Homo sapiens: one gene and its partner. The protein of the gene in region 1 purifies or fractionates together with the protein of each later gene. This does not show direct contact. Each region holds a gene or a part of one and is shown on either strand. Other genes may lie near its edges.

Region 1 (4,372 bases):
GGACATTATCTCTAGTTTAAGAGGAAAATGTTTAATTTTGGTTTGAAATTTCAGGCAAGTGGAGTTAAGAAACTCTGGGATTTGAATCCCAGAATCTCACTTACTGATCATTCTCAGGCAGGTGGGCCATTTAAACTTTCCTAGTTTTTGTTCTTTTGGTAAAACATGGTGATACCTCATGGGATCTGAGGGATAAATGGAATAATTTGCTAGAGAAGGCATTGTGATGTATTATAGAGAGTTACTTTTGGGTTTATGATGGAATATACATGTTTAACATATATACAACCTGGAGCACAGGTGAGAGAACACAGAATGTAGTTGTAATAGTTTCCTAGGACTGCAGTAACAAATTACCACAAACTAGGTGACTTAAAACAACAGAAATTTCTTCCTTCATGGTTCTGGAGGTCAGAAGTTTGAGATGAAGGTATCAGCAGGTTTGGTTTTTTTCTTGGGGGCTTAGAGGGAGAGGCTGTTGAATGGCTCATTCCTAACTTCCGAAGGTTACCGGTGATCATTCCTTGGAATTCCTTGCCTTATAGAGGCCTCACTCCAGTCTGCTGTCATCTGCACATGGCATTCTCCCCTGTGAGTCTCTGTCTTCATGTGGTCTCGTTATAGGACCATGGTCCAGTAAGACCTCATCTTATTATAGTTGAGAGGACCCTATTTCAAATATGGTCAGTCTAAGGTTCTGGATGGACATTGATTTGGGGGGGACTTCAACCCGGTACACTAGTTAAGAAGAATTTCCAAATAAACCTAACCATTGTGCAATTTCTTTTTCAAGAGCACTGGAATTAAGTTGCCTTCATCAGTGTTTGCTTCAGAGTTTGAGGAAGATGTTGGATTGTTAAATAAAGCAGCTCCAGTTTCAGGTATTTTTAATTGCTTTATCTTTTCATATGGATAAATGTATTTTGCAAAACATAAAGAAATGATGTAGGATTTTTCTATCCCCAGTAAAGTATTGAAACAATTGAGATATGTCTGGAATTCAGATCAGGGATTATTAGGAAGGGATGAATGTGATCTTTGTATTTTTGTATTCCTACCATCAAATCTTTATATCTTTTGAGTTCCTGTTTGGAGAGGAAAGTGGGGAAACTATTCTTGGTAATCTAGTTAGGGGAATTGTAACCTTCACATAACCTCTTGCAAAGATAGTGGTATTAATTATTCATTACTTGTAGTGTAATTTTGAAAAATAATCTGTTTTTCAGAATTTCTCCCCAGAGCATACAGGTATTTTTATGGAAGTTCATTTTGCCATCTACACATATATTGGGGGAAATTTTTTATTTTTAATTTGTAGTACCAACACTGTATTTCAGAACAAACACAAAAGTCTACAGAAGTGGTGTTGGTATTTTCTCCCAAGTTGCCTTAATTATTAACTAACACCTGTCCTGTGGCATTCATTAATTAATTTATTGTACAGATTTTTGAGTTGCCACTGTCTGTGTGGCAGGGCCTTGGGTTAAAACAGAATAAAGCATAGTCTCTGACCCAAGAATTTACCTCATTTGGGAAAAATAAACAATAAATGATAAATTACAGTATAGATGGATATTAATAGTGGGGTGAGTAGCACCAAACCCAGCATCACAGGGTTGGGCAAGGCTTTCTAAAGAAGGTGATATCTAGTTTGTTTCTTAAGTAAAAGTTAGGTAGGTGGAAGAAGGAGGGGGAGGGGTGGGGACCAGAGGATGTTCCAGACAGAGGACTGTATGTCCTAAGGCAAGAGAACGTGAATATAGGTAACTATACACATTTTAGCCTGCCCAGAAGGAAGGGTATGGATTAAAAAGAAATGAGGCTGGAGGGTTAAGTAATGGCCATGTAGCAGAGGGTGTTGGAGGCCATGTCAGATGATAAATTTGGAGTTGAAAGTTTTTCATGAACTTGAGTTTTTTGTTTTCATTTTCTGCTCCTTGTGGAGCAGGGCTAAGTCCTAAGCAGTGTGCCCAGAGTCAGCCTAGTATATTTATAGATGGAAGAACATATCTGAAGAAACAGGTAGGTATTTATTAAAATCGCAAAGTCAGAAAATACTGAAAGTATAACAGTCTAAAAATTGTTCGAGTTATTTTTAACAGGTGAATTTAAAGGCCAGTTTCTTCTTGCAGACAAAAGCTTTGAATTATGCTAGACAAAGTTAAACATTATAGATGTTTAATGGAACATTATTTTCACCAGTGGATATTAAAAGGAGAAGCATCATTTCTTTTTTCATTTTTTTTTTTAAATTATACTTTAAGTCCTGGGATATATATGCAGAATGTGCAGGTTTGTTATGTAGGTATACACGTCATGGTGGTTTGCTGCACCCATCAACCCATCATCTACATTAGGCATTTCTCCTAATGCTATCCCTCCCCTAGGCCCCCATCCCCCAACAGGCCCCAGTGTGTGATGTTCCCCTCCCTGTGTCCATATGTTCTCATTGTTCAACTCCCACTTATGAGTGAGAACATGCGGTGTTTGGTTTTCTGTTCCTGTGTTAGTTTGCTGAGAGTGATGGTTTCCAGCTTCATCCATGTCCCTGCAGAGGACATGAACGTGTCCTTTTTTATGGCTGCATAGTATTCCATGGTGTATATGTGCCACATTTTCTTTATCCAGTCTGTCATTGATGGGCATTTAAGTTGGTTCCAAGTCTTTGCTATTGTGAACAGTGCTACAATAAACCTACGTGTGCATGTGTCTTTATAGTAGAATGATTTATTATCCTTTGGGTATGTACCCAGTAATGGGATTGCTGGGTCAAATGGTATTTCTGGTTCTAGATCCTTGAGGAATCGCCACACTGTCTTCCACAATGGTTGAACTAATTTACACTCCCAACAACAACATAAAAGCGTTCCTATTTCTCCACATCCTCTCCAGAATCTGTTGTTTCCTGACTTTTTAATGATTGCCATTCTAACTGGCGTGAGATAGTTTCTCATTGTGGTTTTAATTTGCATTTCTATAATGACCAGTGATGATGAGCTTTTTTTCATGTTTGTTGGCTGCATAAATGTCTTCATTTGAGAAATATCTGTTCCTATCTTTTGCCCACTTTTCAATGGGGTTGTTTGTTTTTTTCTTGTAAATTTAAGTTCTTTGTAGATTCTGGATATTAGCCCTTTGTCAGATGGATTGATTGCAAAAATTTTCTCCCATTGTGTGGGTTGCCTGTTGACTCTGATGATAGTTTCTTTTGCTCTGCAGAAGCTCTTTAATTTAATTAGATCCCATTTGTCAATTTTGGCTTTTGTTGACATTGCTTTTGATGTTTTAGTCAAGAAGTCTTTGCCCATGCCTATATCCTGAATGGTATTGCTTAGGTTTTCTTCTAGAGTTTTTATGGTTTTAGGTCTTACGTTGAAGTCTTTAATCCATCTTGAGTTAATTTTTGTATAAGGTGTAAAGAAGGGGTCCAATTTCAGTTTTCTGCATATGGCTAGCCAGTTTTCCCAATGCCATTTATTAAATACGGAATCCTTTCCCCATTGCTTGTTTTTGTTAGGATTGTCAAAGATCAGATGGCTGTAGATGTGTGGTGTTATTTCTGAGGCCTCTGTTTTGTTCCATTGGTCTATATATCTGTTTTGGTACCAGTACCATGCTGTTTTGATTACTGTAGCCATGTAGTATAGTTTGAAGTCAGGTAGTGTGATGCCTCCAGCTTTGTTCTTTCTGCTTAGGATTATCTTGTAAATTACTTTGGGCAGTATGGCCATTTTTATGATATTGATTCTTCCTATCCATGAGCATGGAATGTTTTTCCATTTGTTTGTGTCCCCTCTGATTTCTTTGAGCAGTGGTTTGTAGTTCTCCTTGAAGAGGTCCTTCACATCCCTTGTAAGTTGGATTCCTAGGTATTTTATTCTCTTTGTAGCAATTGTGAATGGGAGTTCCCTCACAATTTGGCTCTCTGTTTGTCTATTATTGGTATATAGGAATGCTTGTGATTTTTGCACATTGATTTTGTATCCTGAGACTTTGCTGAAGTTGCTTATCAGCTTAAGGAGATTTTGGGCTGAGATGATGGGGTTTTCTAAATAGACAGTGATGTTAATCTGCAAACAGAGACAATTTGACTTCCTCTCTTCCTATTGGAATACGCTTTATTTCTTTCTCTTGCCTGATTGCCCTGGCCAGAACTTCCAATACTGTGTTGAATAGGATTGGTGAGAGAGGGCATCCTTGTCTTGTGCCGGTTTTCAAAGGGAATGCTTCCAGCTTTTGCCCATTCAGTATGATATTGGCTGAGGGTTTGTCATAAATAGCTCTTATTATTTTGAGATATGTTCCATCAATACCTAGTTTATTGAGAGTTTTTAGCATGAAGGGGTGTTGAATTTTATCAAAGGCCTTTTCT
Region 2 (3,936 bases), on another chromosome or scaffold:
GGCCGAAGTGGGAGGATCACCTGAGCCCAGAAGGTTGAAGCTGCAGGGAACCACGATCGTGCCACTGTACTCAACCCTGGGCGACAGAGTGAGACTCTAACAAAATAAAAATAAAAATACCACATATAGTCTGGGCGCAGTGGATCATGCCCATAATCCCAGCACTTTGGGAGGCCAAGGTGGGAGGAAGGAATGCTTGAGCCCTGAAGTTCAAGACCAGCCTGGGCAACATAGGGATCTCCATCTCTACAAAAAATATAAAAATTAGGTGTGATTGTGCACACCTGTAGCCCTAGCTGCTCAGGAGGCTCAGGTGGGAGGATTGCTTGAACCAAGGATGTCAAGACCACAGTGAACCATGATGGCACCACTGCACTCTAGCCTGGGTGACAGAGTGAAACCTTGTATCCAAAAAATAAAAAATTAATTAATTTAAAATCCATATACAGATGCTCCTCACCGTATGGTGGGGTTACGTCCAGATAAACCTGTTGTAAATTAATGATCTCATAAGTCAGAAGTTCATTTGATACTTCATTTGATATCATAGGATACTTCTCTTTGAAAACTGAAGAGCATTCCGAGTGTGTACCACTTTGGCGCAATTATAAAGTCAAAAAAAAATCTTCGGTTAAATCATCAAGTCATGGACTGGCTGAGTAGCCCTGAAAGCTTTCATGAATTTAGAAATCCATGGCCCGGCACGGTGGCTCACACCTGTAATCCCAGCACTTTGGGAGGCCGAGGCGGGCGGATCACGAGGTCAGGAGATCGAGACCATCCCGGCTAAAACGGTGAAACCCTGTCTCTACTAAAAATACAAAAAATTAGCCGGGCGTAGTGGCGGGCGCCTGTAGTCCCAGCTACTTGGGAGGCTGAGGCAGGAGAATGGCGTGAACCCGGGAGGCGGAGCTTGCAGTGAGCCGAGATCCCGCCACTGCACTCCAGCCTGGGCGACAGAGCGAGACTCCGTCTCAAAAAAAAAAAAAAAACAACAAAAAAAAAAAAACTAGCTGGGTGTGGTGGCACATGCCTGTTATCCCAGTTACTTGGGAGACTGAGGCAGGAGAATTGCTTGAACCTGGGAGGCGGAGACTGCAGTGAGTCAAGATTGCACCACTGCATTCCAGCCTGGGCGACAGAGTGAGACTCCATCTCAAAAAAAAAAAAAAAAAAAACGGCTGGGCATGGTGCCTCACACCTGTAATTTCAGCACTTTGGGAGGCTAAGGCGGGTGGATCACCTGAGGTTAGGAATTCGAAACCAGCCTGGGCGACAGTGAGACTCTGTCTCAAAAAAAAAAAGAATTTAGAAATCTAAAACTAACTGATTTGCCAATGAAATTATATAGTCTGTCATTAAGTTTATTACTGGTAAATTTATAAGTATATTTGTAAGTGTTAACCTAAAATTTACTAGTTAAACCAACGTTTTAGAAGTTTATTGTGGCATAATTTACATACAATAAAATTCTATTGTTTTAAGTATCCCGTTCAATGAGTTTTTGGCAAATGTATATTGTAGTCCCATGACACTCATACAGTTCTCTTACCCTGAAAGTTCCCTCGTGCATCTTTATGGTCAGTTGCCTGCCCCCACCCTTTTCTGGGACAACCATTGCTCTTGTTTCTGTCACTCTTATTTTGCATTTTCTAGAAATTCATATAAATGGAAATACACAGTATGTAGGCTTTGGTGTATGACTTCTCTTAATTAGCATGTTATTTTGGATTTCTCCATTTTGTTGGGTGTATCAGTAGTTCCTTTTTATTGGCAAGTACTATTTCATTGCACAGGTATACTGTTGACCCTTGAATATTGCAGGGATTAGGGATGCTGAACCCCTAACATGGTTGAAAATCCATGTATGTATGACTTGACTCTCCCAAAACTTAACTACTCCTGCTTTTGGCTGGAAGCTATACCAATAACAAACAGTTGATAAACACATATTTTGTATGTTATATGTATTATATACTGTACTCTTTCATAAAGTAAGCTAGAGAAAAAATGTTATTAAGAAAATTATAAGGAAGAGAAAATCTATCTACTCTTCATTAAGTGGAAGTGGGTTATCATAAAGGTCTTCATGGTGAATAAGCTAAGGAAGACGAGGAAGAGGGGTTAATCTTGCTGTCTCATGGGTGGCAGAGGAGGAAGATGTGGAAGGCGAGGCAGGAGAGGCAAGCATACTCTGGAACTTTACAGAAATACATTGTAATTTCTGACTTTTTTGCCCTTTCACTTCTCTAAAAATGTTTCTGTAGGGTACCAATCCTCTTCCACAGTTTTTAGTTTCAGTGCCCACGTCATAAAAGGGTCTATGTCATAAAAGACGTCAAAAGCATCTTGAATAATCAGAAACCTTCTGCCAAATTGTCTAATGTCACCTTGTTTTCTGACACTGCTGCTTCTACATCATCTTCCTCATCACCCGGCACTGCTTCAGAAGCACTCACCTCCATCAAGTCGTCTTCTGTTAATTCCTCTGGCATAGTGTCTGTTAGCTCTTGATTTCTCCGTGATCCATATCTTGAAACCCTTCACCCCTCACTTTTGGCCATATCCACAGTCTCTTTCATGATTTCTTGTTTGGCTCTGTCGTAAATCCTGTACTGTCATGCAAAACCTCTGGACATGGTTTTCTCCAGCAGGAATTTATAGCTGCAGGCATGAGGCTTTCACAGCTTTTTCCATAATAATGACAGTGTCTTCAATGGCATGGTCCTTCCAGACTTTTATGATGTTCTTTCCATCGAGTTCTCTTCCATAGCATTGACACTATTTTCCATAGAGTAGTGTGTGTAATGAACCTTAAAGGTCTTTATGACTACCTGTTCTGGAGGCTGAATTAGAGAGTGGGTGCAAGGAGACCACTTTGTTGCCTTTCGGTATTGAACTCATGGGGTTCTTGGGTGGCTGGGACATTGCTCAACATCAAAAGAGCTTTAAAAGGCATTCCTTACTGGCAAGATACTTCCTGACTTCAGGGAAAAAGCATCAATGGAATCAATCCAGAAAAAGAGCTCTCCTTGTGCAAGCCTTCTTGTACATCCAGAAGACAGGCCACTGGTGTTTACCTTTTCCCTTCAAGGATCGGGGTTAGCAGCTTTATAGATAACGGCAGTCCTGATCATAAACCTGACTGCATTTGCACAAAACAGTAAAGATAGCCTATCCTTTCCTGCATTAAATCCTGGTGTTTGCTTCTCTTCTTTACTAATAATTGCCCTTTGTGACATTTTTTTCCAGAACAGGACGTTTTTCATCTGCACAAAAAACCTGTTCAGGCAGATATTATTTCTCCTCAGTGATTTTCTTAATGGCATCTGGGAACTTGTCTGCTGCCCTTTGGTGAGCAGAAGCTGCTTCTCCTGTTACCCTGACATTTTTAAAGCCACCTCTTTCTAACATTATCGAAGCATCCTTTGCTGGCGTTAAGTTCTCCAGCTTTAGATCCTTCATTTTCCTTTTGCTGTAAGTTGTCATATAATGACTTAATTTTTTTCTCCATCATATTAGACTCTATAGATGTGTCTTTCTTAGAACAATCCTGCACCCACATAAAAGCTGCATTTCCAATTTGAGATTGTCAAGAAAAGAATCACAAGATCTATAAATTTGGAGAGGAAACTTTATTTCTTAGAAAGGGTTGCAGTCTGCAGGGTGGCCATTCTGACAGGCTGGAAAGTATAGCCTTCAGCAGAGACCAAAAGCAGGCACTCTGAAGGAGGAAAGGATGAGACAGGAATTTATGCTGAATGCGTTGGCCAAGTATACTTATTTAACAGGTTATAGGAGGAGCTCTGAATATAAGAGGGGTCCTAATGCTTGTATACCGAGTAAATGTACAACCCCTGGTCGCTTTGGGGTGGAGACTTAACATTTAAAATACCTGACAATTAGATCCTGTATGTTACAAGATGAAATAGGGAC

What was found.
Region 2: the proteins of LTV1 (region 1) and PNO1 purify together in Homo sapiens (affinity purification with mass spectrometry; one large-scale study listed by BioGRID and IntAct). This does not show direct contact.

Annotation. Positions count from the first base shown.
Region 1 is NC_000006.12:143,849,338-143,853,709, forward strand, and holds part of LTV1 (protein LTV1 homolog), read left to right. Parts: intron 1-793; coding exon 794-881; intron 882-4,372. UniProt on the Homo sapiens protein: Essential for ribosome biogenesis.
Region 2 is NC_000002.12:68,164,388-68,168,323, forward strand, and holds part of PNO1 (RNA-binding protein PNO1), read left to right. Parts: intron 1-550; coding exon of another isoform or gene 551-572; exon of another isoform or gene 573-1,487; intron 1,488-3,936. UniProt on the Homo sapiens protein: Part of the small subunit (SSU) processome, first precursor of the small eukaryotic ribosomal subunit.